Homo sapiens: one gene and its partners. The protein of the gene in region 7 purifies or fractionates together with the protein of the main gene of each other region. This does not show direct contact. Each region holds a gene or a part of one and is shown on either strand. Other genes may lie near its edges.

Region 1 (4,018 bases), on a different chromosome or scaffold from region 7:
GAAAGTAACAATCACCTATATAAAAGCTGGTTTCAGGCCGGGCGCGGTGGCTCACACCTGTAATCCCAGCGTTTTGAGGGAGGTTAAGGCAGGCAGATCACTTGAGGTCAGGAGTTCAAGACCAGCCTGGCCAACATGGTGAAACCTCATCTCTACTAAATATTAGTTAGGCGTGGGTGGCAGGCGCCTATAGTCCCAGCTCTTGGGAGGCTGAGGCAGGGGCATTGCTTGAACCCGGGAGGCAGAGGTTGCAGTGAGTTAAGATAGTGCCACTGCACTCCAGCCTGGGCGACAGAGTGAGACATTGTCTTAAAAAAAAAAAAAAAAAAAAAAAAAAAGGTCAGGCACGGTGGCTCACACCTGTAATCCCAGCACTTTGGGAGGCCGAGGTGGGCGGATCACAAGGTCAGGGGTTCGAGATCAGCCTGGCCAACATGGTGAAACCCCATCTCTACTAAAAATACAAAAAAAAAACTAGCTGGGCGTGGTGGTAGGCGCCTGTAATCCCAGCTAGTCAGGAGGCTGAGGCAGGAGAATCGCTTGAACCTGGGAGGCGGAGTTTGCAGTGAGCAGAGATCGAGCCACTGCACTCCAGCCTGGGGGACCAGAGCAAGACTCCATCTCAAAAAAAAAAAAAAAAAAAAAAAAAAAGGAAAGAAGTTGGTTTCAGCAGATAAAGGCATAGTTAATGTTGTTCATACGATCCTAAAAATCATTTATAGAAATAATTCTTCCAGATGTTGGCATACACTTTTTGTGGGACAGAAAACCGGCATAATACTTCCGCACATCATCACAAGCCTTAAAAATATGTATGCTCTTTGACCCAGTAATACTACTTTTAGGGATTTATCTTAAGAAAATAATTAAGAAATAATAAAGTTTTAGCTCTAAGGATATTCATCTCCATACTTTTTTCTTTTTTTCAGTGACAAGGTCTGGCTCTTTCACCCAGTCTGGTGTGCAGTGGCATGATCACAGCTCACTGCAAACTCCAACTCCTGGGCTCAAGCAATCCTCCTGCCTCAGCCTCCCCAGCAGCTGGGACTACAGCAGCATGCCACCAAGCCTGGCTAGTTTTTTTATTTTTATTTTTCTGTAAAGACTAGGTCTCGCTATTATTGCTCAGTCTGGTCTTGAACTCCTGGGCTCAAGTAATGCTCTCACTTTGGCTTCCCAAAGTGTTGGGAATATAGGTGTGAGCCACCCTGCCTGGCCACAGTGCTTTTATATTAGCAAAACATTAACAGCAATGAAACTTGGGTACATAAACTGAACAATATGTAGCAACATTGACAAGAAACTGGGAAGGGTGGTTACCTCTAGGAGAGGGTCTAGAAGTGGTGGCTGGGGACAGAGGTGGGAAATTTGCTGTTCTCACTCAATAACATGGTTGTAATCATTTGAAGCTTGTTTGATGTATATGTATTATCCTTTCAAAAAACTGATTAATATTGTGGCCGGGATCGGTGGCTCACACCTGTAATCCCAATACTTTGGGAGGCTGAGGCAGGCAGATCACCTGAGGTCGGGAGTTTGAGACCAGCCCGATCAACAAGGAGAAATTCCGTCTCTACTGAAAATACAAAATTAGCAGGGCATGGTGGCACATGCCTGTAATCCCAGCTACTCGGGAGACTGAGGAAGGAGAATCACTTGAAACCAGGAGGTGGAGGTTGTGGTGAGCTGAAATTGTGCCTTTGCACTCCAGCCTGGGCAACAAGAGCAAAACTCTATCTCCAAAAAAAAAATAAATAAATAAAATAAAATATTGTATAACCACGCTTACTGACATGAAAGCCATACCTATGTCATACCACATTAAAAAAAAGGAATGGGGAGGTGTCATACAGGTGGTATATAGTTCTGCAAGATGAAAAGTTCTGGATAGTGATTGCCTAACAATGTGAATACACTTAACTCTACTGAACTGTACACGTGGTTAAAATGGCAAATTTTAATTTTTTTTTTGAGACAGGGTCTCACTCTGTTGCCCAGGCTTGAGAGCAGTGGCACGATCTAGGCTCACTGCAACCTCCACCTCCTGGGCTCAAGCCATCCTCCTACCTCAGCCTCCCGGGTGGCTGGGATCACAGGCGTGTACCACCACGCCTGGCTAATTTTTGTAATTTTTGGTAGAGACAGGGGTTCACCATGTTGGCCAGGCTGCTCTCGAACTCCTGACCTCAAGTGATCTTCCCACACTGGGCTCCCAAAGTGCTGGGATTTCAGGCATGAGCCACCGTGTCTGGTCTAATTTGATGCTCTTGGTAAAATAAGGATAAAAACTTTTTCTATGTTAATTACATACAAGATGCTGAAGGTAACATACTGATGAATGTAGTAAACATATCCATAAATAAAGCAAATGAAAAGAAAATGAATATGCTAGTTCTCCAAGGCATGGTTAACAAGAAAGCCACCTATATAAGCATCTACAGCAAAATAATAATGATGATTAACTAAATGTTATTTATTTATTTATTTTTGAGACGGAGTCTCGCTCTGTCGCCCAGGCTGGAGTGCAGTGGCACGATCTTGGCTTACTGCAAGCTCCGCCTCCCAGGTTCACACCATTCTCCTGCCTCAGCCTCCCAAGTAGCTGGGATTACAGGCACGCCCGCCACTATGCCCAGCTTATTTTTTGTATTTTTAGTAGAGACGGGGCTTCACCATGTTGGCCAGGCTAGTCTCAAACTCCTGACCTCATGATTTGCCCGCCTCGGCCTCCCAAAGTGCTGAGATTACAGGCGTGAGCCACCGCACCTGGCCCCATTCCCGTTTAAACATCTGTATTCCCTGCCATAACATCTTTTGCCACCTATAGCTACTTGAAGTATGGTCTTGGAGCCTGTTGTACATTTAAGAATAAATTTTCATTTAAAAAAAAAAAAAAAAAGTGGTTGGGTACTGTGGCTCAGGCCAGGCGCATGGCTCATGCCTGAAATCTCAGCACTTTGGGAGGCTGAGGTGGGTGGATCACCTGAGGTCAGAAGTTCGAGACCAGCCTGGCCAACATGGTGAAACCCCTCTCTAGTAAAAATACAAAGATTAGCTGGGTGTGAGGGCACACACCTGTAATCTCAGCTGCTTGAGAGGCTGAGGCAGGAGAATCGTTTGAACCCAGGAGGTAGAGGTTGCACTGAGTCAAGATGACGCCACTGCGCTCCAGCCTAGGCAACAGAGCGAGTCTCCATCTCAAACAAAACAAAACGAACAAAACAAAACAAAAAAGTATTATGACAGCTACAAAAAATAGGAGAGAAGGGATTGAAAAAAATGTCAGTTAAAACAATTTCTGGCGGCCTGGTGCAGTGGCTCACGCCTGTAATCCCAACACTTTGGGAGGCTGAGGCGGGTGGATCACAAGGTCAGGAGTTCGAGACCAGCCTGACCAACATGGTAAAACCCCATCTCTACTAAAAATACAAAAAATTATCCAGGCATGGTGGCGGGCGCCTGTAATCCCAGCTACTCAGAAGGCTGAGGTAGGAGAATCGCTTGAACCTGGGAGGCGGACGTTGCAGTGAGTCGGGACTGCACCACTGCACTCCAGCCTGGGTGACAGAGAGAGATTCTGTCTCAAAAAAAAAAAAAAAAAAAAAAAAAAAAATCCTTTGAAAGACAAGAAATTAAATACAGAAAATGGAAGAAACTGAAACTGGAATAGAAGTAGACCACAACTGTAGTTACATAAAAGTATCCCTAATTCAAAGAAAAAAGCATTTACTCTTTGTCCTGAACAGGTGTAGTCAAAAAAAGAACGCTGGTTTATGAAATGCTGACACGATTTCACTCTCACCTTACAGCAACAAAACTACCCTCAGAGGTTTTGTACAAATGAAGGAGACAAAAATGGACCAGGGCTTACACAAGGACCGGGAGAACACACTGAAGACAAAACCTAACCAAAGACTACAATGCCTGGGCCAAATTTTGTGGCATAAGGAAGAGGAAGGAAAAGCAGGAGAAGGTCATTTGGGGTCACAGGTACAGCATGTGCAAAGGCATGGGGGCG
Region 2 (4,018 bases), on a different chromosome or scaffold from region 7:
GTAGCAGTAGTCATCGAATGTACCAATATTTGTGAAGTCACAATTACCTGATTTTTGCCAGGTTGAGAGAAGTTAGATTTGATTAATATTGTTAAATTCTATAGCAACTAAAATTTTTCTTAATATTTCCTTTTGGAATCACATTCTCTTTCAATTTATTGTTGTAATTTAATGTGTTTTTCTACTTTTAAGAACTGTTGGGATTGACCATTTGCTGACAACCTGAAAAGTGTCAGTTAGTTCACTCTCTGCCAACTCCTACAGTTGCATATGTACTGCATGAACAGGTGGGGTACTAGATACTCTTCACTGTTGTTGCACATAGAATATTTTATTAATTTGATGTCACTGCAAAATGTTCTTCCTCCAGAATAAAAGAAGAAAGGTCTGCCTATTAAAGTCTCTCTAGAACTAAAAAGTCAAAATGGTAGAAAGCAACATCAGATCAATTCTATAAATATTTAAATTATAATTCTCAGAAAACACGAGTAAAAATCTAATGGCTCATTGGATGGAGAAGGATGATGAGTAGTAAAGGAGGTGTATTATTTAAATATTATAGAAAGTGTTTCTTTGTAGCCCTGTATGTAGGGAAGGAGAGTATTTGTGATTGTATAACTTGTTGCTCTTGATGAGATACTGAGAAACCATAAACGTAATTTATTTTATTTATGTATTATATTTATTTTTACATTTTTTAAGGCTGTGAATAAGTTGGCTGAGATCATGAATCGAAAAGAACCTGTCAAGCGTGGTAATGACACAGATGTGCGGAGAAAAGAGAAGGAGAATAGAAAGCTACATATGGAGCTTAAATCTGAACGTGAGAAATTGACCCAGCAGATGATCAAGTATCAGAAAGAACTGAATGAAATGCAGGCAGTAAGAATACTTTTTGGACTCTAGACTGAAGACTTCTTTTTAAGAAGTAGAATTATTTTCATGTCTGTGTTTTACTGGTTATAGACCATTTCTATTTAATAATTATTATTGAACCAAGAAGCAAAATGTTGAGTTATGTTGCATCCAATTAACTTATTGTAATTAAATTTCTTATAGCAAATAGCTGAAGAGAGCCAGATTCGAATTGAACTGCAGATGACATTGGACAGTAAAGACAGTGACATTGAGCAGCTGCGGTCACAACTCCAAGCCTTGCATATTGGTCTGGATAGTTCCAGTATAGGCAGTGGACCAGGGGATGCTGAGGCAGATGATGGGTTTCCAGGTATGGATTTGTTTTCAGCACTAATATTTATCTTAAATATAAATCAGTTGATTGTTTTAAGTCTTGCGACTGACTGCTCTGAAGGAAAAATGTTTGTAATTTCTTTAAGGGAAAACCTACTCCTTGGAGTAAGGATTCAAGTAACATTTCAAACTTATTTTATTTATTGATTTTTTTTACAAAGTTTTTCATAAACATACAAAAGAAAAACTCCACATGTCTAGTTTTTAAATTATTATATTAGCTCTATTTTTAAGCTTTCGTTTCATTTTCTCTTCTTTCTGCATTCTTACTTCCTTTTATGTTGGGTGTTTAGTTCATATCACTCAGTCACACACTATGGAATCCATGTCATTCACCTACCAGCGTTCCTCTACTTCTCTCAATATTGCCACTAAGCCTTCCAGTTCTCACACGCTCCTTGACTCTGATTCTGACTCAGAAGAAGAATCTTTGCCTTACTTACCCATTTCATCGGAACCTAATGGTACAGGTGATATCCTGAAAATCTTCTCATCTTTGGAGTTTTTCCCACTACCCTTAATTTTAGTCCTTTTGAAGATTTTTTATGTAACATTAACTAATAACCACTAACTCTAATATGTTGTTGTAGACTCAGTTAAAAATAAACTGCTGCATGAATAAAGAATTTGTTTTTAAGGTATTTTCTCATGGCATTGCTGTTATAATTGATAGATGCCAACTTGCGAGAAATGGAGTAATACATTATATTGCTTAAGAGCGCATGGTTTCACTGCTTGTTTTAGCCATTTTCAACCAAGAAGAAATTCTTCCTGAAGTTTCATAACAAGAGTGGTGGTACAGAAAAAGTACTTCGACTGATTCAAAGGATATGCTTAAGGTTTTTACTGAGTACTTACTGACATTATCCTAGGCATATGTCCTTCATAAGAAACATGAAAGAATTTGGCCCGATCGTTACCCTGAAAGAGATTACAGTTTAAATGAAAACAGCAGAGAGTTCCGTCATTCAGAGTCAGAGGCAGCCCTGTGTGATCTTTCAAGACTGCAGTTTCCTCATCTAAATTAGGAAAATAATTCCTGTTCTGTGCGGTTTTTTTAGGATTAAAGAGAATTTGTGTAAAGCATCCAGCACGATTGATACATAATAGAAGTTAAATAAGTGATAGCTACTTTTACTATTAGAATAACTTCCCCAAATGCTATTTCACATATTTATTTCATTAAAAGACATTGATCAAATGTCATTAAAACAAATTCCGAGGATTCATACACATTCCTTAGTTGAATTACAATGTTACTGATTTTGATATTTTGGAATTTAGAAATCTTTTGATTATTTTGCTGCTTATTAACCAAATTTTATCTAAAATGTACGTAATTGGTCAGGTGTGGTGGCTCATGCCTATAATCCTAGCACTTTGAGAGGCTGAGGCAGACAGATCACCTGAGGTCAGGAGTTCGAGACTAGCCTGGCCAACATGGTGAAACCCCATCGCTACTAAAAATACAAGAAATAGCTGGGCGTGCTGGCGCGTGCCTGTAATCCCAGCTACCTGGGAAGCCAAGTTAGGAGAATCACTGGAACCCAGGATGCACAGCCTGCAGTGAGCCAAGATTACGCCACTACATTCCAGCCTGGGCGACAGAGCAAGACTCCATCTCAAAAAAAAGAAATAAAATAAAACAAAATTTACATTATTTTATTTTATTATAGTTATTCTAAAAGTCCATTTTCTCTGAACACGTAATTATTTAAAATATTTACTCCTTGAAAATGTGCACAATGTGGCCCTCTTCCAAAGGAAAAATAAAGGAGTCTAAGGCAGGTGTACCAGTGAGAATAGAGAGTTGCTGCTGCTGCCTTTTTTTTTTTTTTGGCAACTTTTCTCCTGAATTTTATAAATGCATGAATTTAATCAATGGAACATTTGACTTTATAAAAGTATAGACTATCTGTTTCCAATATGATATAACCTGGATTTTGTTTTGCATTGCATAACTTTTTACTACTGATCCTGTACTATTACTGTATCCTAGATGATGTATAGTGATAAATTCTAAAGGATATATTTTATTTGTTTTATAAATTTCATATTAAAATTTTATTAAGTTCTTTGTTATCTAAGGAGAATTGTTATCTTTAGCCTCACATGTTGTGCTTATTTGTAGAATCAAGATTAGAAGGATGGCTTTCATTGCCTGTACGAAACAACACTAAGAAATTTGGATGGGTTAAAAAGGTAATTGATACTTTGGAATATGAGCCTTTTGTTTTTGTTTTTGTTTTAACTCTAGTCATTTGGCTTTTGTAGTTGTAGGATATACATGACTGGTACCTTTAGACACATAGAACTTGTTTATACTTCAGGATTTGAAATGATATGATTTTATTTATCTTTGTAAAAAATTTTTGTCCTCATACCTTGTTAATAATAAGACAGATTTTATTGTTAGGAAATTGTTGATTTTGATACTTTTGCTGTTTTGTTGGGAAAAGAACTGTGAATATAGTAAAAAAGACCCACTTATTTATTTTCCTCTGTTACTATGATTATTGATGTTATTATGTTTATTTTTGAGAAGGTTACTAATGATGTTGGATCCCAAAGCTAAGTCCAAAAAAATTTGACTTTACTTCTCCCCACAGTTTGCTTATTTAAAATATCTATTAATATAAACAAAATTTATTGTTATTTTAAGGAAGACTGTCCTAAAGATATATTAAATACTTTTTAGTTACTTAGTATTTTATGATTTTTATTGCTAATATAGAATTTATTTTCAAAAAAATCAATAAATAAGGTA
Region 3 (4,018 bases), on a different chromosome or scaffold from region 7:
AGTATTCTGTCTTGTTAATTACTGTAATAGCATGGAGTAATGTTTTTAAGTATTGTTAGTAATTCAGGAGGCTTATTCAACAAGGAAGCATTAATAAACTATGTAAACTTTGGTGGCTAGAGGTTTCAAGGTATAAGGAAGAATATTTACTGTAGTAAAAATAAAAATCGGCTGTTTAAAATGGCCAATTTCTAATTTTTATCTCATAACTAATTTGTTGTGTTGTATTCTCTTTTTTTATTTGAAGTATAGCAGAAAACAGACATTTTTGCAATGCCAAAGAAACTAAAGTCTATTTCCAAGAAACCTGGATTAATGAAAACTGTAAAGAATCTCAGAATGAAAGTGTTGGCTACAATGGTAATTTTGTAGAATGCAGACCAAATATTGAGCAGTGTACTAACAAAGCTACCTTGTTGATTATTGGAGATTCATTTTCTTCATCAAAATGCCCAATAAAGTGTTGGTCTGGGAATCTTAAATTCCATTCTCAGCAGATTTTATTTAGATAGAGGTAACTTGCTCAAGTGGAAAGTTGAGATAGTTACCCTTAAATTACAGGGGTTAATTTCACCAAACAGTTATGTAGTATCTACCAAAGCTATATTGGAGGATATAAAGATGACAAGATAGGTTTTTGCTTTCCAGAAGAGAGTATAGATAATTGTACTAGAAGATAATTATAAGAGACTACAAATAACATTTTAAAAATTATTTGCTATATATCAGACATTGTACTTAGTGTCCTATACACCTTATTTGATCTTCACAACAATCCAATAAGGTAGGTGTTATTTCCATGTTGTGGATCAGGAAACAAGTTCAAGAATGTTAAGGAAATTGCTCATGGTTACATTGTGTGTCTGAGTTTGAACCCAGGTCTGTATGTTTCCCACTACACTATTCTTTTTTTTTTTTCTGGAGACGGAGTCTCGCACTGTCACCCAGGCTAGAGTGCAGTGGTGTGATCTCTGCTCACTGCAATCTCCACCTCCCAGGTTCAAGCGATTCTCCTGCCTCAGCCTCCCAAGTAGCTGGGATTACAGGCACCTGCCACCACACCCGGCTAATTTTTTGTATTTTTAGTAGAGACGGGGTTTCATTATGTTGGCCAGGCTGGTCTTGAACTCCTGACCTCGTGATTCGCTTGCCTCGGCCTCCCAAAGTGCTGGGATTACAGGTGTGAGCCACCATGCCCGGCGCCACTACACCATTATTTAAATTGCCACAGTTCTGGGGAACTATAAATGTTTTGCATCTAATGTTATAGTTGTATGAACTTTCTACAAATTGGCCAAAAACGTAATTAACCAACATTAACTTTACACTACTTGTTAGCTCCGTCTGTAACAAGGAAAAATGATTTCTACATTCCACTTGGTAGTCTATAATTTAGCAGTGTTTTATTATTGTAGATACAGTCTAATATTTCACAAAGAATAATAGTACAAATAATCTTTTTACAGGGTTTCTTCATTAAGAATTACTGTTTCTAATGAAAGGTGTCACATGCTTGCCCAAAACTTCCCAAAAGATTTAACATTACTCTGTAGACTGTGCTTTGCTTTAAAATTTTATACTCACATGTAACCTAGCTCTGTGTTTGACACTTAGTAGGTGCGCAATACATTGATGAGAATGCTCCATTTGTCACGTAGGAGGAGGGATGTCTAGGTTATTTTAAGAGAAGTTCATTATAATCTTTGACATATGAAATTACGTAGTTTTCTTTAATTTACATTTCTAATCCCTTCTCCCAAAAATATTCTCTTTAAAAGTACAAAAGGGATTTCTATAGTAGTTACATCATTCTTCCATATAGCACACTGGTAGTTTACTCATTTAATGGAAAATGAGAAGACGGCATCTAATTTTGCAGTGACACTGGAAAGTGGAAGGTCTGAGTTGGGAGGATTAAAATTTTAGGGTGGTTTGGGGGTTGGTGGTATGAGAAGGTAAACAGGGTAGTTAAGACAGACTTTACATTGTTTTCAAATTAGAAATGTAATGCACATGTATTACAGAAAATCCAGAAAATGTGGAAAAGCACAAAAGAAAATAAAAGTTGCTCATAGTTCTGTCACTTAGAGACTGACAGACTTTTTCCACCTAAAAGTCCCATGGCTGTAGAGTCCATTTTTTCTTTTTTTTCTTTATCTCATTTTACTTACTAGAATTTTGAAGAAAAATGAAGCTCAGAGAATTTTAAGATAGAAATCACAGTAGGTTAAAAACTTTTTTCTTGCCACTGGTTCTAGATGAGTGGATCTAATTAGCTTTTATTGCCTTTTTTAATCTCAAAATATTTCAATTATGAGTCACGGCTTTATTAAGAAGAAAAGTGCAGGCTGGGCATAGTGGCTCACACCTGTAATTCCAGTGCTTTGGGAGGCTGAGACAGGCGGATCACCTGAGGTCAGGAGTTCGAGACTAGCCTGGCCAACTTGGTGAAACCCTGTCTCTACTAAAAATACAAAAATTAGCCAGGTGTGGTGATGTGTGCCTGTAATCCCAACTACTTGGGAGGCTGAGGCACAAGAATTGCTTGAACTCAGGAGGCGGAGGTTGCAGTGAGCTGAGATCACGCAACTGCACTCCAGCCTTGGTGACAGAGTGAGAACCTGTCTCAAAGAAAAGTGCAGTAGTATGGATTTAGTAATAGACAGTAATGAAGTATAGCAACAATTTCTTTGAATAATATAGCAATACAGTGTGTTTTTCCGGCTTAGGTTTGATTGTTGCTGCTCTTATAGACTACCACAATGTTTGTAATTTGCAGCGCATACTTTGCTGAATTAAACATACTAAATAACTTTCCAAATATTTCTTGACTACCAAGATAAAAGTCTGTGTTAAAACTAGTGTTACTAAATGATGGCTCTAAAATGGATTTTTTTGTCATCTCTCATTAGTGTAATAGAGATTAGGTCTAGTATCATGCAATTCCTACCATTCACATAGTGTTGAAATAGGGACAAGTAGGGGCACCTTTTAGACATCATCTCTTTATCCCAGAGCTTAGCATCTGATTCCTTGGGCTCTCTTATTTCTGCTTTTTGAATTTGGCAATGGTAAATTTTCATGCCATTCATCAGAAGCATGTTTACTTTTAAACAAATAAAGTAGTAGTTTGTAAACATCACCTAAAATAATGTTACTTTCATACCATAAATGGTATTTGAATAAAACAGTTAATTCTACATTATTCCCTCATAAAATATACTGTGCTGATAATTGTCAAATGTCTATATTATTTCAAAAGCCAATTTTACTCTACAGTATATGACATTTAATATGATCAACTTTTGATATACAGCAGAGTTCAAACTTGACAGCAAAGTTGAAAACTAGTTAAAAGCTTTAAAAAGATTTAAAATTTAGAGTGGGAAAAATATACTAATGAAAAAGTAATTCCTTAATGAAACAGAAATAGAGAATCTTTATCTTGATGCATGTCTAGCTTGTCTTAATTTTATCTGATGAAATCTTGTTTGAAACTAGCTCTATTATCATACTTGGTTTTTTTTTGCAATCACAAAAATGAAATTTGTGTAACATTATATACATAAATATTGCCTGTAAAAAATGAAGATCAAGAAAGCATGGGACAGTGTACTTGATGACAGTAAACACCTTAAATGTGAAGGTAGTGTTGAAGTGCCTCATAAAGATGAGTGGATATACAAGACTTACATAATATTGTTAGGATTTATCTCTTTTAGAAATTTGTCAGTGACTTATCAAATTGGTGAAAGTTTTACTGCCCTGGCTCATAAGTACCTTAATTTAATGGAATGTAGTTATGACAAAATTTGGAATTTATTTTTGATTATAGAAGACATACCACACAATACATGTGCTGAGAGTTTTTTATTTATTTTATTTTTATTTTTATTTTTGAGACAGGATCTCGTTCTGTCACCCAGCTTGAAGTGCAGTGACGTGATCTCGGCTCACTGCAGCCTCTGCCTCCTGGGCTCAAGTGATTCGCCCATCTCAGCCTCCCAAGTAGCTGGTA
Region 4 (4,478 bases), on a different chromosome or scaffold from region 7:
TAAACAAATTTTATTGGGGGTCTGAAGTAACTCCCCAAACCTCCGTGATTTAGTAGGAGGCAAGATAAGGATAATCACCCCAGCACCTATTGCCATTTAGATTAAGTAAATTTACTGAGGCTTCAAAGGAAAGTCTTCAGGACTCAAACCTTAGTTATAGACTAAAGTGAGTTAATCAATTATTATTATTATTATTTTTTTTTTTTTGAGACGGAGCCTCCCTCGCCCAGGCTGGAGTGCAGTGCCGGGATCTCGGCTCACTGCAAGCTCCGCCTTCCGGGTTCACGCCATTCTCCTGCCTCAGCCTCCCTAGTAGCTGGGACTACAGGCGCCTGTCACTGCGCCCAGCTAATTTTTTGTATTTTTAGTAGAGATGGGGTTTCACCGTGGTCTCGATCTCCTGACCTCGTGATCCGCCCGCCTTGGCCTCCCAAAGTGCTGGGATTACAGGCATGAGCCACCGCGCCCGGCGAGTTAATCACTTATGTCTTTAGATGAATGCACATTTACACGTAGACATATAGCTTAGAAGGTATATAAGCTCTGGAAAGCTTTGTAATTTTAAGTTGGTCTGGTGATAATTTCCAGGCCTTCTCCCTGTAACTGGTTGCAGAAATAAAAACTCGCTTCCTCTCCAGTTCATCTGCATCTCCTTACTGAACCAGGAGAAACAGCAGCCTGACGCTCAGTTTGGTCCAGGAACAGGTGGTGGAGGGCTCTCGAACTTTTTTCTTTTTTTTTTTTTTTTTTTGAGATGGAGTCTCGCTCTGTCGCCCAGGCTGGGGTGCAGTGGCGCGATCTCGGCTTACTGCAAGCTCCGCCTCCTGGGTTCACGCCATTCTCCTGCCTCAGCCTCATGAGTAGCTGGGACTACAGGCGCCCGCCACTACGCCCCGCTAACTTTTTTTGTATTTTTAGTAGAGATGGGGTTTCACCGTGTTAGCCAGGATGGTCTCGATCTCCTGACCTTGTGATCCGCCCGCCTCGGCCTCCCAAAGTGCTGGGATTACAGGCTGAGCCACAGCGCCCGGCTCTCTCGAACTTTTTTGGCAGATTTTTGCTGTTGATCAGCCCCGCTTCCCCAACTTTCCCCTGGGTCTCTCTCCCCCGGGAGTTTCTGGTTCCTCTGCGATTAATCACAGCCAAGTCTAGCTGGTTCTTCAGGACGGAGAATAAATAGGATAAACAGGAGCAGCCGAACCCTAACTTTGAGAGCTTTCTCCCCTCCTCTCCTAACTTCCCAGTCAGTGACTCGGAAGACTTTAACAGCAACAGCTGCCTCCTCTTGCCAGCTTGATCCCACCTGCTAAGTGAAGGAACAGCGTTTAAAGAGGTGGCAATCGGCAAGGGTGGATGCTTCCCTTTCCGCGCAGGCGCGTTCAGTCGCAGCACCGCGACTATCGTGATAGACAAGCGAGATCGACGCTGGCCCTTTAATAGCCCTTTCCCGGGGTCCTGCCCCGCGCGTGCGCACTGTGGTTCTGCGCTTGTCATCATGGCGACGCGGGGCCATGTGCAGGACCCTAACGACAGGCGCCTCCGGCCCATTTACGGTGAGTGTCTTGGACCAGCCCGCTCGCCAGCCCGACGCGCCGAGGGCTGCCGAGGCTGGGGCGAAAGCCCAGGAGGGGTGCTGAGGGCCGGCGCGCGGGCCGGGCAGGCGCAGGGGGGCGGGCCGCGCGGGCCACTAGGCCGCAGCCGCGGGCCTCGCGTAGGCGCCGGCCCAACCTTCCTCAGCCTTGGGGTGGTAGTGGCGCGGTCTGGGCAGCAGCTGGTCGGCAGAGCTGGCCTGCTTGGCAGGCCCCGTGGGACGCGTGGTTCTGCAGACACCTGCGCTACCCGCAGGCTGCATCGTTACCGCCGCTCCTAGGGAGACCGGAGATCTCCCCGAAGGTGGAAGCCGGCTCCGGCACGAGGGTGGGACGCCCTGCCTGAGGGAAGATTCCCTACCAGAGATTTTTTTTTATTTACGGGAATTGGGCCTAGAGGGTTGTCTGACTAGGTGGGCTTCGGTGCATAGGAGAAACTGAGGTCCGGAGTGGGGAAGGGGCTGACGCAAGGTCACCCAGATCGAGTCAGGAGCAGGCCCGAGATTCCAGGCTCCCAATCCAGAGCTGTTGGGTGGAGAAGCAGCTACTCTGGTCACACGTGGGAGGCGGGGGGAGGGGGTCTTGGGCCTAAAATAGCGGTGAAGAGATTGTGATAGCTCGTGTCAGAGGGGCATGCAGAGCTACTGGAGGGCTTCTCCTTTCTGCAGCTTCTCTGTGGTTTTCTCTGCAGCTTTCCTTCCCTGTGCTAAGCAGATCCCTCTCCACAACTCTTACCTCAACCCGCAGACTTGAAGACCTTGATGTCATCTCATCCATTTACCCTGGTAGTGAAAAATCACAGATTTTGAGTTTGGGAGAAACCCTTTTCCAATAACCGAAATGTGTAATTGGATTGGTCCTTTTTGCATTTCCTTTCCTCTTAGATGGTTTTATGGTCTTGGTCTATCTCACTTAATGGTGAGGAAGCTTCAAGGTCAGTGGTTTTTACAAAAGTAGACATCGTATTTATAGACCTCATGTGGATGTTACTAAATTGGAGGCTTCTCTCCAAGGTGGGAATCGTTTTGGGAGCGGGGGGCGGTGGTTAACTTTGTTTCTGGCCACAGTTAGTCCGGCTTTTATTTCATAATTTGTGTGATTTTTTTTTTTACTCTCACATCTCATTTGATTTTAGCAACAATCCTATAGCTAAGGTTTATAGATGACTCATTATGACAGTCACTGGCCTTGGCCTTTTATATGGGTTATCTAATATAATCTTCACCCATTCTCAAGAGGTGGCTACTGTTTTTTCCTGCCCCTGAACCCTTTAACAACAACAACAACAAAAAAAAAAACAGATGAGGAAACTGAGGCTTTATTGTTGTTGTGTAATTTGTCTAAGGCCACTCAGTTAGTATTTCTTGGAGCTAGAATTTGAACCCCTGTGGACTGTTTCAGGCTCACCTTTTTTTTCTTTTGAGATGAGTCTCACTCTGTCGTCCAGGTTGGAGTACAGTGGCACAATCTCAGTTCACTGCACCCTCTGCCTCCCAGGTTCAAGCGATTCTCCTGCCTCAGCCTCCTGAGTAGCTGAGATTACAGTTGCACGCCACCAGGCCCAGCGAACTTCCATGTTTTTAGTAGAGACAGGAGTTTACCATGTTAGCCAGGCTGGACTTGAACTCTTGACCTACTCAGCCTCCCAAAGTGCTGGGATTATAGGTGTGAGCCACCATGCCTGGCTCCAGGCTCACCTTTTTTTTTTTTTTTTTTTTTTTTTTGGAGACAGTCTCATTCTGTCATCCAGGCTAGAGTGCAGTTGCACAATCACAGTGCACTGCAACCAGCCTCCGCCTCCTGGGTTCAAGTGATTCTCCTGCCTCAGTCTCCTGAGTAGCTGGGATTACAGGTGCCCGCCACCATGCCGGCTAATTTTTGTATATATTGTAGAGAATGGGTTTCGTCATGTTGCCCAGTCTAGTCTAAAACTCCTGAGCTCAAGCAGTCCTGCCTCAGCCTCCCAGAGTGCTGGGATTACAGGTGTGAGCCACTGTGCCTGGCCCAGGCTCACCTTCTTAACCACTGTGCTAGAAACTACCTCACTTTGAGCTGAAGACACTGATTTGCCTGAGGTCACACAGATGGTAAGTGGCAGAGAAAGGACTCTGATTTCCTATTTCCCCGGGGCTGCATATTCTCATGCCCTTGCCCTCCAGTGTATATTTTCAGAGGGCAGAGATATATATACAAGGTGGGTGATGGAAGGTGAGAACTGAATCCAGGGTTCATAGTTTGTGACTCATTACAGCTTTGTGCAGCAGCTGCCTGCAGACTTTTTTTTTTTTAAACTAAAAACACTCAATACTTTCAAGAATAATTTGATTTTTAAAATTGTTCTTGAGGACCAAAGAGAATTTCTTTGGTCCCATAGTTATTTAGAATTAATAGTGTTTTGACTGTCTAATGGGAAACACCATGTCCATTTCACATCACTAAACATCAGGATATATTAACAAGTTATATTCTCAAAACTGAAGTCAGAATTATGTAGCTTTTGTAACATGTACATGGGAAGAGGATTAGAAGAGGCTTTCTTCAGTAATTCTAAGGCGATTAGTATAAACTGGCAGGACTAGGAAAAGAACGGTACAGACTGTCCGTGAATTCAGCACTTAAGCACATTTGACTTTTGAACTCCACACTTTTGTTGTTTAAATACATTACTACCCCCAAACAACCATGGTTCCTTGAATTCAGACATTCTGACAAATGAACAAACTCATCTATGGTGGTACTTGCCCACCAGCCAAAAATTCAACAACTATCAGCATTAATTAGTGTTTACTGGTGGGCTGACTGCCCTATTAGGTAGGTAAGATTATTGTGATCAAACTGAAGCCTAGAGATTAACTTGCTCAAGGTTGTAGCTACCAAGTTGTAGAGCTG
Region 5 (4,018 bases), on a different chromosome or scaffold from region 7:
TGGTTCAGAACACACATGTTCAGAGCTTCTACCACAATACTTTGCAAAGAGTGTAAGCTTGACAAATCTTACTGATACATCTAATATTGATTACCCTATTTTCAGTTCCTCACATACAGACTTAAGTATTAGTGTTGTTGAATTCATGGATGTGCTGACGATGACTCGTATGCCCAGTGTGGCCTGTAATTTTTACCAGAGCTATCAAGCGTTGATAAGATGCCAGTCATCCTCACATAAACAGCTTACATTTATCAGTGGCCTTTCCTGGAGATTCCAGTGGGACTCATTAAGTGCTGCCTGTCAAGTGCATCCCGCTGGCTCAGTGACCTCCACTCTAATTTAATCGCAGCAGCATTATTTACCAAGTGCTGTTGTATGCATTAGCTCTTGCGGCTGCAAAAATTCTACAAGTGGGTGTTAAATTGTTCTTACCATTTTCCTTCTGTGATGTGGAATCTGAGGCACGTGGCTTGCCCCAGGCCACTCAGGCAGTAAGTGGCAGAGCCAAGACTAGAACCCAGGACTGCAGGCCCAGGAGCCCAGCATTTGCGTCCTGGCGCTGAGTCTGTGGCTGCCATCCCTCTCCCAGAAGGGCCACAAAGTACCCGCAGCCATCTTTGCTCCTTCTGCAATTTCTTACCCCGGACACAGCCCTTCTCCAAGCAGGGTCTTTTTTTTTTTCGAGACAGAGTCTTGCTCTGTCGCCCAGGCTGGAGTGCAATGGCACGATCTCGGCTCACTGCAACCTCTGCCTCCCAGGTTCAAGCGTTTCTCCTGCCTCAGCCTCCCGCGTAGCTGGGATTACAGGCGCATGCCACCACACCCAGCTAATTTTTTGTATTTTTCGTAGACGCAGGGTTTCACCATGTTGGCCAGGCTGGTCTCAAACTCCTGACCCAGGTGATCCGCCCGCCTTGGCCTCCCAAAGTGCTGGGATTACAGGTGTGAGCCACCGCGCCCGGCCAGGGGTTTCTTTTCTGAGAGGCAAGATTAGGTGACTCTGAAGCCCACCCCGCTGCCTTTGACTCTCCTCCGATCGACGGCCCTTCTACAGGACCCGCTGTGTGTTCCTCAGCTCTCCTGAGGCTCCGTTCTGCATGCGTAAAATGAGGTGACAGTTCCCCACTCACAGGGTGTCATGAGCGTTCATCAGATCTTCCGAGTCCAGAGAGAGCCTACCAGGGAATTGCAGTGTACATCTGTGATGGCTGCCATAACAAAATACCAGACTGGGTGGCTTAAACAACTGCAGTTTATTGTCTCACAGTTTGGGAAGCCAGAAGTTCAAGATCAAGGTGTCAGCAGGTTTGGTTTCTCCTGTGTCCTCTCTCCCTGGCTTCCATATGGACACCTTCTTGCTGTTTCTCACGTGGTCATCCCTCAGTCCCTGTGTGTTTTCTAATCTCCTCTTCTTATTTGGACATCAGTCATATTGAACTAGGGCCCATGTATTAGGCCATTCCTGCATTGCTATAAAGAAATACCTGGCTGGGCACGGTGACTCATGCCTATAATCCCAGCACTTTGGGAGGCCGAGATGGGCAGATCACGAGGTCAGGAGATCAAGCCCATCCTGGCTAACACGGTGAAACCCCATCTCTACTAAAAATACAAAAAAAAAAAAATTAGCCGGGCACGGTGGCAGGCGCCTGTAGTCCCAGCTACTTGGGAGGCTGAGGCAGGAGAATGGCGTGAACCCAGGCGGCGGAGCCTGCAGTGAGCCGAGATAGTGCCACTGCACTCCAGCCTGGGCAACAGAGCGAGACTCTGTCTCAAAAAAATAAATAAATAAATACCTGAGACTGGGTAATTTATAAAGAAAAGAGGTTTACTTGACTCATAGTTGGGCATGCTGTACAGAAAGCATGGTGCCAGCATCTGCTTGCCTTCTGGGGAGGCTCAGGGAGCTTTTACTCAGGGCGGAAGGCAAAGCAGGAGTAGGCACATCACATAGCAAGAGCAGGAGCAAGAGAGAGTGGCAAGGAGACACCACACACTTTTAAACAACCAGATCCCATGGGAACTCATTACCAAGGGAAGGACACCAAGCCATTCATGAGGGATCTGCCCCCGTGACCCAAACACCTCCCACCAGGCCCCACCTCCATCATTGGGGATCACATTTCAACATGAGACTTGGGTGGGGACATACATCCAAACTCAGCCCACCTTAATGATCCATTTTAACCTTAACCACCTCTTTAAAGGCCCCATTTCCAAGTACAGTCACAGTTGGAGGTATTGGGGGTTAGGGCTTCAACATACGAATTTGGGTAGGGGGACACAATTCAGCCCATAATAGCGAGCACACCTTTCACCTGTGTGAATTCAGCCACGCAGTGCTGGACAAAAAAGAGACAGAGAACAAGATCTTAGACAACATGAGTGATTCCACCCACCATTCCAGCCAACAGGCGTGTATCCCACAGGGAAGTAGGGACACGATGAAAATCTACTCTACTCCACCAGCTCCAGGTCCCCTGTATATAAACACGAGCATCTCTTTGAGCTGACTGTGATTCCTGTGTTCAAAGATAGATATTTTTCAGGCCAGGCACAGTGGCTCACACCTGTAATCCCAGAACTTTGGGAGGCCGAGGCAGGCAGATCGCTAGAGACCAGGAGTTCGAGATCAGCCTGGCCAACATGGTAAAACCCCATCTCTACTAAAAATACAAAAATTAGCCAGGTGTGGTGGTACATGCCTGTAATCCCAGCTACTTGGGAGACTAAGGCATGAGAATCGCTTGAACCTGGGAGGCGGAGGTTGCAGTGAGCTGAGATCATGCCACTGCACTTCAGCCTGGGTGACAGAGCAAGACTCTGTCTCAAAAAAAAGGTAGGTCTCTTTCATGTGTTGTGGACTCTATAAATGCCAGCTAACTTCTTCATCCGATGCTCAGCCAAAGAAGCCAGGATCAAGGGTAGCTCTGACTTCTGCCTTGTCTTTAGAATTGTAGCAGACGCTGCCGGTGCCTCTGATCCACCTGAATTCACCTGCGCCTACACACAGGTCCCTGCAAGCCGACAGCTTCCCAGAAGGGGAGAGGAGTTAATACCCTGGGTAGGGAGGAGCTGAGAGTCAATAGATAAATGCACGCATCCCCAGAGGGACCCGTTCTGAGGCACTGTCTTTGTGGTCTCTCAGAGGGTCCCTGGCAGATCAAGCCCCATGGCCCCGAGCAATAACTTGCTCATAATTGGCCTCTCCCTTTCCCTTCTTTCTCTGTCTACTTCCTTACTTGTATTTCCTAGGACCAACTCTCAAATTAAGTACCTATACCCAAGGCCACATCTCATGGACTGCTTTAGGGGGAGTCCCATACGACAAGACTCTCCCCCCATGTAAGATATTCCCGGAACATGGTAACATCTCCATTGGTGGTCCCTGTAGACCTTGTCAGAGGAGCTGCTGAGTACACAGTGACAGCTTCTAGAGCTCCAGTTGCACATGGGTTCTGCCAAACCATTCCATCTGCTGGCCCTGGCATCGTAGCCAAGTGCCTTTCTCTATCCTCCCTTGCAGGTGATCGAGAAAAACTTGAGTGGCTGGTGGTACATTCAGATTGAAGATAAGGAAGGGTGGGCCCCGGCCACCTTCATTGACAAGTACAAGAAGACGAGCAACGCGTCGAGACCCAACTTTCTGGCTCCCCTGCCCCACGAGGTGACCCAGCTCCGGCTGGGGGAAGCAGCAGCGCTGGAGAACAACACGGGCAGCGAAGCCACGGGCCCCTCCCGGCCCCTGCCTGACGCACCGCATGGTGTCATGGACTCGGGGTTGCCATGGTCTAAAGACTGGAAGGGCAGTAAGGATGTCCTGAGGAAGGCATCTTCAGACATGTCTGCGTCAGCAGGCTACGAGGAGATCTCAGACCCCGACATGGAGGAGAAGCCCAGCCTCCCTCCGCGGAAAGAATCCATCATCAAGTCGGAGGGGGAGCTGCTGGAGCGGGAGCGGGAGCGGCAGAGGACGGAGCAGCTCCGGGGCCCCACTCCCAAGCCTCCGGGCGTG
Region 6 (4,018 bases), on a different chromosome or scaffold from region 7:
GTGTGTGCCTGTAGTCCCAGCTACTTGGGAGGCTGAGGCAGGAGAATCACTTGAATCTGGGAGACGGAGGTTGCAGTGAGCCAAGATTAGGCTACTGCGCTCCAGCCTGGTGACAAAGTGAGACTCCGTCTCAAAAAAAAAAAACAAAAAACAAAAAACAACTCTTTAGCATCACCTTTTAGCAATGACATAGCCCAAATAATTAAATTTGTCTCCTGATCGGAGATTTGGATTTGTCTCATCTCTCTTTCTGGTTCCTCCTTGGTTTCTACTTTGTAAACCCTTTAGGCCGGGGATCCAGTTTCTTGTCTGTGGATGTTTTATATACAAACAGGACTGTGAGCTCTTTCAGCATTGTACAAACAGTGATGAATATCATCTGCAATTAATTATGTTTAAGTTATTCTCTAATCAGTTTAGAGGTGGCTCACTTCCTCAGGCAATCTGAGTGGGCTTTCAGGAAGTGGGAAATATTATCTACTATTGATTGAAGAAAAGCAGCCACAACACAAATAAGTCAAAATAATAGCTAATTGCTAAATAATTTCAAGTTTTTTATGTATGTGATTTTTTTCCCTCACCAATTTATCTTCTCAGTTGTTTGGCTTATTATTTAAATCAGTTTTTATTGTAAACATGGTAATGACTGAAAGGTAAGAAAAGGATAGACGTAGTTCAGAATAAACTGAGTGGCAGAAAGAAGCCAAAGGCTATGTGTAATCTACGGAATGAGTAATTTATAAGGAAGTAATCAAGAATTCACTGTGTATAGAAGTAAGCAAGTTCACTCACATAGTCACATACTGTATTACATGATTTATTATCTTTGAGATGGGCAGGTGTGGTGTTCTTCTATTACCGCTTTCCTAGGGTGTTGAGAGTTCTAGTCCTTCTATTTTCTTTTCTGGAATTACCACTTTTCCTATGGCTGAAGGGAGAAAATATTATTTATTTTGGGATCTGGAATTGTCTTCTCAATGTTGATTTTTGTATTTTATATAACTGACTTAGTTTGGATGAGGCTTCCTTTCTGTGAATTAAATTTATATGTGACTTGATCAGAGTTGTATTTGCTGATGAGGAGCTGAGACTTGAAGCCTTTTCACCTATTGTTAGGTAAAATGATTACCACTTAGAACTAGGTTGAGACCTTTTGAGATGTGGGTCTTTCTTTAGCTCTCCTCAGTCTATGGCAGTGTGTGGACTGTAATATTTAGCCCTCACACTTAGAAATTCAGTGTTAAGGGCATATATATAAGTTCCCAGTATGTGATGGCAGCTTGTGATAAGGTGGGTATGTGGAAGTTTCATAGACTGATTATGTAAGAAAACTGACTTGATGTTAGTAGCACAACTGGTGTTGGAACGGAGATTTCTTAGATTGGTTTATGCTATTTATATTTAAATGTATTTAAATTGATAATATTTATCCTGGTATAAGATTGCCTTATTCTTAGTTGACAATGTTAATTTAAGATATGTAATTCTCAGCTGCTTTTCTCTTACATTTTTACGCTTGAATAATCCAAGTGTTTACAAATTCCTACCTAATTTTTTAAAAGAGGTGCAGATTATAGTGAGATGGTCTGCTTTGCCATATAGCTGAGGGTAGTGGCAGAAGAGGCCACATACTGGATGCTAAGTTAAATAGAGAAAAAATTTATTTACACTTCAGATGTCTTTTGCTTAATGAATGTATCAGAAAAGCCAACACTTTCTGAAGTGAGTTTCTGTTCTACCGTATTGAATGTTTGTAATACCGATGTTTTGTGTGTTTTTCAGGATTGGCACAGCTGCACTGGCCGTTCAGGTTGTGGGCAGTAACTGGCCCAAGCCCCACTACACTCTGTTGATTACAGGCCTATGCCGTTTCCAGATTGTACAGGTCTTAAAAGAGAAGCCATATCCCATTGCTGAAGTGGAGCAGTTGGACCGACTTGAGGAGTTTCCCAACACCTGTAAAATGAGGGAGGAGCTAGGAGAACTATCAGAGCAGTTTTACAAATATGCAGTACAAGTAAGTTGCTTTTATTTTTTCTTAAAACCCATTTTTCTTTGGTTCTTTTGCTTTCCTAAGATATGGTGAATCTGTTGGATAGTGAAGTTTTAGGACAGTATACATTTAAATGAGTTAGTAACATTATATATTAATTCTGATTTACTCTTATCTGGGGTTGTACCTAAATCATTCCAGGACATATTGGCCTACCCTTTCTAAAGTTTTCCAAATGTTATTTCTACAGCTTTCCTTCTAACTTCTACTGTCTCTAAACTAGATAATTATTAAACCTAAATATTTAAAGCTAAAAAACGAAATACTGCACAGAAGCTGTCTGTCACTAAAATATCTAGGCACCATTTATATAAATTACAATATATTACTTCAAAAGTCAAGATCACATTGTCTAGCAGTAACTATGGTAGATCAAGCCTGTGGTGGGCTGATTTCAAGTATGGTTAAAACCTTGATTAACTAGAATGCTGGGAAGGAAGCACATTTTAGATATGCATTAAATATTTGACTCTTTAATTCTAGTTCTTTTTGGTTAACTCTAGATAGAACAGAAAGCTCCTATTCCCACCCCATTTTGTTTCAAACCTTAATGAAACATAAAATTATAAAGTATAGTCTTCTACTTTTCTATTAGTTTAATCCAGTGACTATAACTAGATCTATGAGGATCAGATAATGTTTAAAAGTCACAATTATAAATACTACTGATCATTGAAATATGTGTGGGGCAAGTGTTCATAGCCAGTGGTATTTGTATCTGATGTGGCATTTGAAGAGCCATACTTACAGTGTAATGAACAATAACAGAAAAATAGTAAATTTGAGGGCCAGGTGCGCTGGTGCACACCTGTAATCCCAGCACTTTGGGAGGCTGAGGTGGGTGGATTGCTTGAGCCCAGTAGTTCGAGATCAGCCTAGGCAGCATGGTGAGATCCCGTCTCTACAAAATGTACAAAAATTAGCCGAGTGTGATGGTGCGTGCCTGTAGTCCCAGCTACTGGGGAGGCTGAGGTGGGAGGATTACTTGAACCTAGTAGGTGGAAGTTGCAGTGAGCCAAGATTGCATCACTGCATTCCAGCCTGGGCAACAGAGCGAGACCCTGACTCAAAAAAAAAAAAAGAAAAATAGAAAATTTGAATCTGTAATTTCTATATGGGCTGAAAGAAAGCACTTTGAGGAAAGAAATTTCAGTTTGAAAACTGGAATAAGTGAATATACTGCTTAGGAATAAAGGAGATTGAGAGAAATAGAATTTCTTTTTCTTTTCAGCAGTGATGTTCCCTGGGTCTTTGTGCCTCTATTGGACATAGATAGCTTCATAGCCTCTTTTGCTTTGCTTTTACTTCTTTGTACTTTGAATCTAGAGGAACTTTTTAAACTTGTAAAGATTTTGCAGTGACATTAAAGGAATTTTTAGAAATAAATAGATCACCACACATCTTACTGTCATCATGCATCAAATTTAATTTTTGTTCGTCTTCTGGGCTCAGTTCATATTCAATTATATGTTTTGTTTTTGTATCCATGTCTGATGTTCATATTAAGTACTTTTGTTAATTTCATTGAGTTAATGTATACTAATTTTATAATTTCTCTTTTTAGACATTAAAGTTATTTCCAATTATTCTCTTTCATCCCCTTCTGCATCTACTTCTACTTCTGCATCTCTTCAATGAACTTCTTCAATAGCATCCTGTCTCCTAGTTCTTCTGTCTTGAACCTTTTCTCTTCACTGAGCCTTTCTAAAAGAAGTCTGGGGCATCCCATTCCCTTGAGTAAAAGACTTTAATGGCTATAGGATGGACACCAAATTTCTTAGTATAACATTAAGACCGTTTGCAACTTGTCTTGGGCCTATCTGTCTTGCGTCAACTCTAGTTATCACCTCACTGACACCCTAGTTCTAGCTCTACTGAATGTAAAACAGCTTCACATTGAGTTATTTTATGTCTCTATGATTCTGCCTTCAGTTCTCTGCTGGGAGTGCTCTTCCATCTCTGATT
Region 7 (4,018 bases):
TTATTTTGAGAGACAGAACCTCCTATTTCAAGTGAAATCTTAATGAAACCACAATAAAATAAAAGCAAAGCTGCTGGGGTTGAAGAGAGTGATGAGAAGGTGAAGCCTCAGCCTGGCTTGTTATGATGACCTCCCCACCTGTGCTCCTAAGCAGCCCTTCAGGACTGTCTGTGGGAGTTCCTCAGAGCATGGTTTTGTAGCTTGGGAACCTCTACCTTAGGAAAGTTTTTAAGTAGCCAGCCTACTATGGAGCTGAAAGAGGGAAGGAGGCCACAGGCAAATTCACCAGTCTAGCCACGATTGCAACATACCACATCTGTGATTTCACCTTCTCTTGCAAGTTTCCTTTGAGAGGTAGGAAAGTAAAGCAGTTCAATCATAAGCTGTAGTTGCAAACCAAAAGGCAGAGCTCTCACGTTTTTGATACTGTATCTGTTGGATATATCTCAGGTGCCATCAATGAGAAGGCCACACATCCTGGGTACTATGAAGACCTAGTGGAGAAGTCCATGGGGAAGTATAATCTCGCCACGGAGGAGATTGAGAGGGATTTACACCGCTCCCTTCCAGAACACCCAGCTTTTCAGAATGAAATGGGCATTGCTGCACTAAGGAGAGTCTTAACAGCTTATGCTTTTCGAAATCCCAACATAGGGTATTGCCAGGTAAATGTCACAGGTGGTTTTTGCTAAAAAAATAAAATAAAATTTCTATTCATTTGGCAGCAAATAGTGGGAAGGAAGGTTTATGGTTAACAGAACTATCACTTTACCAGGGCCTCTCAACCTTGGCACTGTTGACACTCTGGACTGTTAACTCTTTGTTGTATGGGCTGTTCTATGCTTTGTAGAATGTTTAGTAACATCCCTGGCCCCTACCACTAGATGCTGGTAGAAAATCCCCAGTTGTAACAACCAAAAATGTCTCTAGATATTGCCAGATGTCTGAGAGGCAGAATCATCCTGGGTTGAGAACCACTGCACTGAATGGAGGAGACCTTCCTGGATTCACCACTGTCTAGCTAGGTGACCTGGAGAAGATCCTTCTGATCACTGTCTGCCTCAACCTTCATCCCACCCTGGAGTAAGAGAGGGCATCCTCAGCACCAGGCCTGTCACTGTGGTTCGCCACAGTGTTGCTACTTTGCATCCTCTTAAGTAATAATGTCCTTGAATAGAGCTTTTATATGCTAGGGTTATGTCTTAATACACATTAAAATAAGTGCTTAACTTAGTATTAAGAAAAGTTGCCTACATACCAACAAAAGTCATCTCTTGTACTGGTATAGATGCCAAAATTTGGGAAGCTCCAAAATAACGTGACCTTAGAATCAAAGGCTATATCGGCCAGGTGCGGTGGCTCACGCCCGTAATCCCAACACTTTGGTAAGCCAAGGCCGGAGGATCACGAGGTCAGGAGATCGAGACCATCCTGGCTAACACGGTGAAACACCGTCTCTACTAAAAATACAAAAAATTAGCCAGGCGTGGTGGCAGGTGCCTGTAGTCCCAGCTACTCGGGAGGCTGAGGCAGGAGAATGGCCTGAACCCGGGAGGTGGAGCTTGCAATGAGCTGAGATCATACCACTGCACTCCAGCCTGGGCGACAGAGCAAGACTCCGTCTCAAATTAAAAAAAAAAGAAAGAATCAAAGGCTATATCATTGTAGAGGCCTTCCCTGACCATCCAGCAAAAGCTAAAAGAGGCTGAACTCCTACTTCAACACACAAGTGCACGTACATGCACACGTTAGTCTCCCTCTACTGCATTATTTTACCTCTTTATAACTTCCAATTTAAATAACCCCCCACATAGACTAGTTAACCTTTTCATCTTTGTTTTATCTAACACTAGCATTTAGGACCTGCAAGATATCACCACTCTGTCCCCCATCCTCCAATACCTAGTCCAGAGCCTGTTACAAGGTAGACCCCTAAAAAAACCTATCTCCGCTAAATGACTAAGGAACTGGCAGGGACCATCATCATGTACTAGGATCAGCAGGTTAATTCTCAAGTGGAATTTCCATGATGATGTCACTTGGGAACATAATGAGTAAGACTTACAAGAAAGAGCCTATTAAACCAAAATACCTTTTTTGAAATTGAATTGTAGAAGCCTGATGAACAGTTACCGGTTTCTGGGAGATCAAAAGAAGTACAGGAGGTAGTTGGCCTCTAATATGATAAAGTTCATATTTACCTTTTGATCTTCCTCTTTTTAATTAAGAAGACTATTAAAGTAGTTGAGTCTAGAGTGGTTATGAGGTATCTGATAATATCTTTTAATAAACTACAGTTACTTTAGAATTTAAATCACTCTCAGTTATCACTACCATCTCTCTCCGTATGGAAATGTTGGGTGAGGACTCCAAGTCTGAAAGGTTTCGTTGTTCTCTCAGGAGAGCCTGGAGCCATGTGTACCTGATTATAGAAACCATTACGGAAAGTTACAAAGGAAATGTTTACCTCACTGAATTAAGGATTAAGAACACTGAGAGATTTTAGCAGGTTAAAAGCTTTGTGAAATAGCCTTTGGGCAAATTTTTGGAATAGGGGTTTGCCAGCATGAGTTCGGGGCTCTGTCTGGTGAATATTGGTGTTAAGGAAGACCCTGCACACTTACTGGTTCAAGGACTCAGGTTTTTATGTTTTTACAGGGTCATAAAACAAAACTCAGAAGAATATATGACAGAGACTATGTGTAAAGCCTCCAAAGCCTAAACATATTTATCTCGCTTTTCACAGAAAAGGTTTGCCAGCCCTTGTGAGAATAACTGAGTAATTTTAATATGCTAACAGAATTGCTTATATTTTCAACTGTATTTGATGACATCCTCTTTCACTTTTTTAGGCCATGAATATTGTCACTTCAGTGCTGCTGCTTTATGCCAAAGAGGAGGAAGCTTTCTGGCTGCTTGTGGCTTTGTGTGAGCGCATGCTCCCAGATTACTACAACACCAGAGTTGTGGGTAAGTGGAGATGCATTTAACATTTCAACCTATGTCTCGTCAAGAAGATGCTTTTAGAGAGGTGCCAGCCAGAACACTATTTCTGGTCACCATAAGCCAAAAGAGTTTCAGACTACTCCAGTTTTTCAAAATGGAAATGAGAGAGGTTGAATAAATATAGGTTGTATACAAAGGAGCCCCGTGGAGTTTAAGGGACTATACACATACGCCTGCTCCAGAAATTATTTTAGAAAATATTTCATGTGTGTGTGTCACTCTGACATGTGAGAGCTACACCAGGTATGTGCACCATTAACACAAAGAGATTTGATAAAAAAAATTAATAAAGAGGATGGGAACCTACGAAATACAGAGGTGTTGCCAAAAAAAGGCTATCTGGGGTGGAAAAAATAGAATATAGAGGTTTATTGAAAGCTAGGTTTCTAAGGTATTTTTCAGGACTGGTTTTATTGCAAAGCAAACACCTGTTTTGAGGATTTAAATTATTGCTGTTACTCCTTGTAATTCTCTCAAATATCAGTGATTCATTTTAGCAGGACAAGCTTTTCATTGCTTGGGTTGTACAGTATATTGTTTATGCTTCTCACTTGTGTTCTTTCTATATTTCTAAACATTTGCACATGAATTTGATTATTGAAAATATTGTCAAAAATGTCCTTACGTTGATCATGAATGTGTACAACAGGAATGCTTTTAAGTTTTTTTAAAAAGTAATTGTTTTAAAAAATGATTAATCTGTGGGCACCATGCATCCAGAAGTGTGATTTTTTTTTTTTTTTAAGACCATCTCGCTCTGTCGCCCAGGTTGGAGTACAGTGGCGTGAATTTGGCTCACTACAACCTCCGCCTCCCAGGTTCAAGTGATTCTCCTGCCTCAGTCTTTGAGTAGCTGGGACTATACAGACTCCCACCACCATGCCTGGCTAATTTTTGTATTTTCAGTAGAGATAGGGTTTCACCATGTTAGCCAGGCTGGTCTCAAACTCCTGACCTCAGGTGATCCGCCTGCCTCAGCCTCCCAAAGTGCTGGGATTATTATTATTTTTTT

What was found.
Region 1: the proteins of TBC1D9 (region 7) and PUS7 purify together in Homo sapiens (affinity purification with mass spectrometry; one large-scale study listed by BioGRID and IntAct). This does not show direct contact.
Region 2: the proteins of TBC1D9 (region 7) and ROCK2 purify together in Homo sapiens (affinity purification with mass spectrometry; one large-scale study listed by BioGRID and IntAct). This does not show direct contact.
Region 3: the proteins of TBC1D9 (region 7) and PKN2 purify together in Homo sapiens (affinity purification with mass spectrometry; one large-scale study listed by BioGRID and IntAct). This does not show direct contact.
Region 4: the proteins of TBC1D9 (region 7) and NAA25 purify together in Homo sapiens (affinity purification with mass spectrometry; one large-scale study listed by BioGRID and IntAct). This does not show direct contact.
Region 5: the proteins of TBC1D9 (region 7) and SH3PXD2B purify together in Homo sapiens (affinity purification with mass spectrometry; one large-scale study listed by BioGRID and IntAct). This does not show direct contact.
Region 6: the proteins of TBC1D9 (region 7) and LONP2 purify together in Homo sapiens (co-immunoprecipitation; one large-scale study listed by IntAct). This does not show direct contact.

Annotation. Positions count from the first base shown.
Region 1 is NC_000007.14:105,508,561-105,512,578, forward strand, and holds part of PUS7 (pseudouridylate synthase 7 homolog), read right to left. Parts: intron 1-4,018. UniProt on the Homo sapiens protein: Pseudouridylate synthase that catalyzes pseudouridylation of RNAs.
Region 2 is NC_000002.12:11,194,390-11,198,407, reverse strand, and holds part of ROCK2 (rho-associated protein kinase 2), read left to right. Parts: intron 1-702; coding exon 703-882; intron 883-1,059; coding exon 1,060-1,228; intron 1,229-3,382; coding exon 3,383-3,453; intron 3,454-4,018. UniProt on the Homo sapiens protein: Protein kinase which is a key regulator of actin cytoskeleton and cell polarity.
Region 3 is NC_000001.11:88,687,183-88,691,200, forward strand, and holds part of PKN2 (serine/threonine-protein kinase N2), read left to right. Parts: intron 1-4,018. UniProt on the Homo sapiens protein: PKC-related serine/threonine-protein kinase and Rho/Rac effector protein that participates in specific signal transduction responses in the cell.
Region 4 is NC_000012.12:112,105,791-112,110,268, reverse strand, and holds the start of NAA25 (N-alpha-acetyltransferase 25, NatB auxiliary subunit), read left to right. Parts: upstream 1-1,485; 5' UTR 1,486-1,495; coding exon 1,496-1,553; intron 1,554-4,478. UniProt on the Homo sapiens protein: Non-catalytic subunit of the NatB complex which catalyzes acetylation of the N-terminal methionine residues of peptides beginning with Met-Asp, Met-Glu, Met-Asn and Met-Gln. May play a role in normal cell-cycle progression.
Region 5 is NC_000005.10:172,339,428-172,343,445, reverse strand, and holds part of SH3PXD2B (SH3 and PX domain-containing protein 2B), read left to right. Parts: intron 1-3,529; coding exon 3,530-4,018. UniProt on the Homo sapiens protein: Adapter protein involved in invadopodia and podosome formation and extracellular matrix degradation. Binds matrix metalloproteinases (ADAMs), NADPH oxidases (NOXs) and phosphoinositides.
Region 6 is NC_000016.10:48,250,349-48,254,366, forward strand, and holds part of LONP2 (lon protease homolog 2, peroxisomal), read left to right. Parts: intron 1-1,782; coding exon 1,783-2,017; intron 2,018-4,018. UniProt on the Homo sapiens protein: ATP-dependent serine protease that mediates the selective degradation of misfolded and unassembled polypeptides in the peroxisomal matrix.
Region 7 is NC_000004.12:140,658,540-140,662,557, reverse strand, and holds part of TBC1D9 (TBC1 domain family member 9), read left to right. Parts: intron 1-450; coding exon 451-665; intron 666-2,852; coding exon 2,853-2,970; intron 2,971-4,018. UniProt on the Homo sapiens protein: May act as a GTPase-activating protein for Rab family protein(s).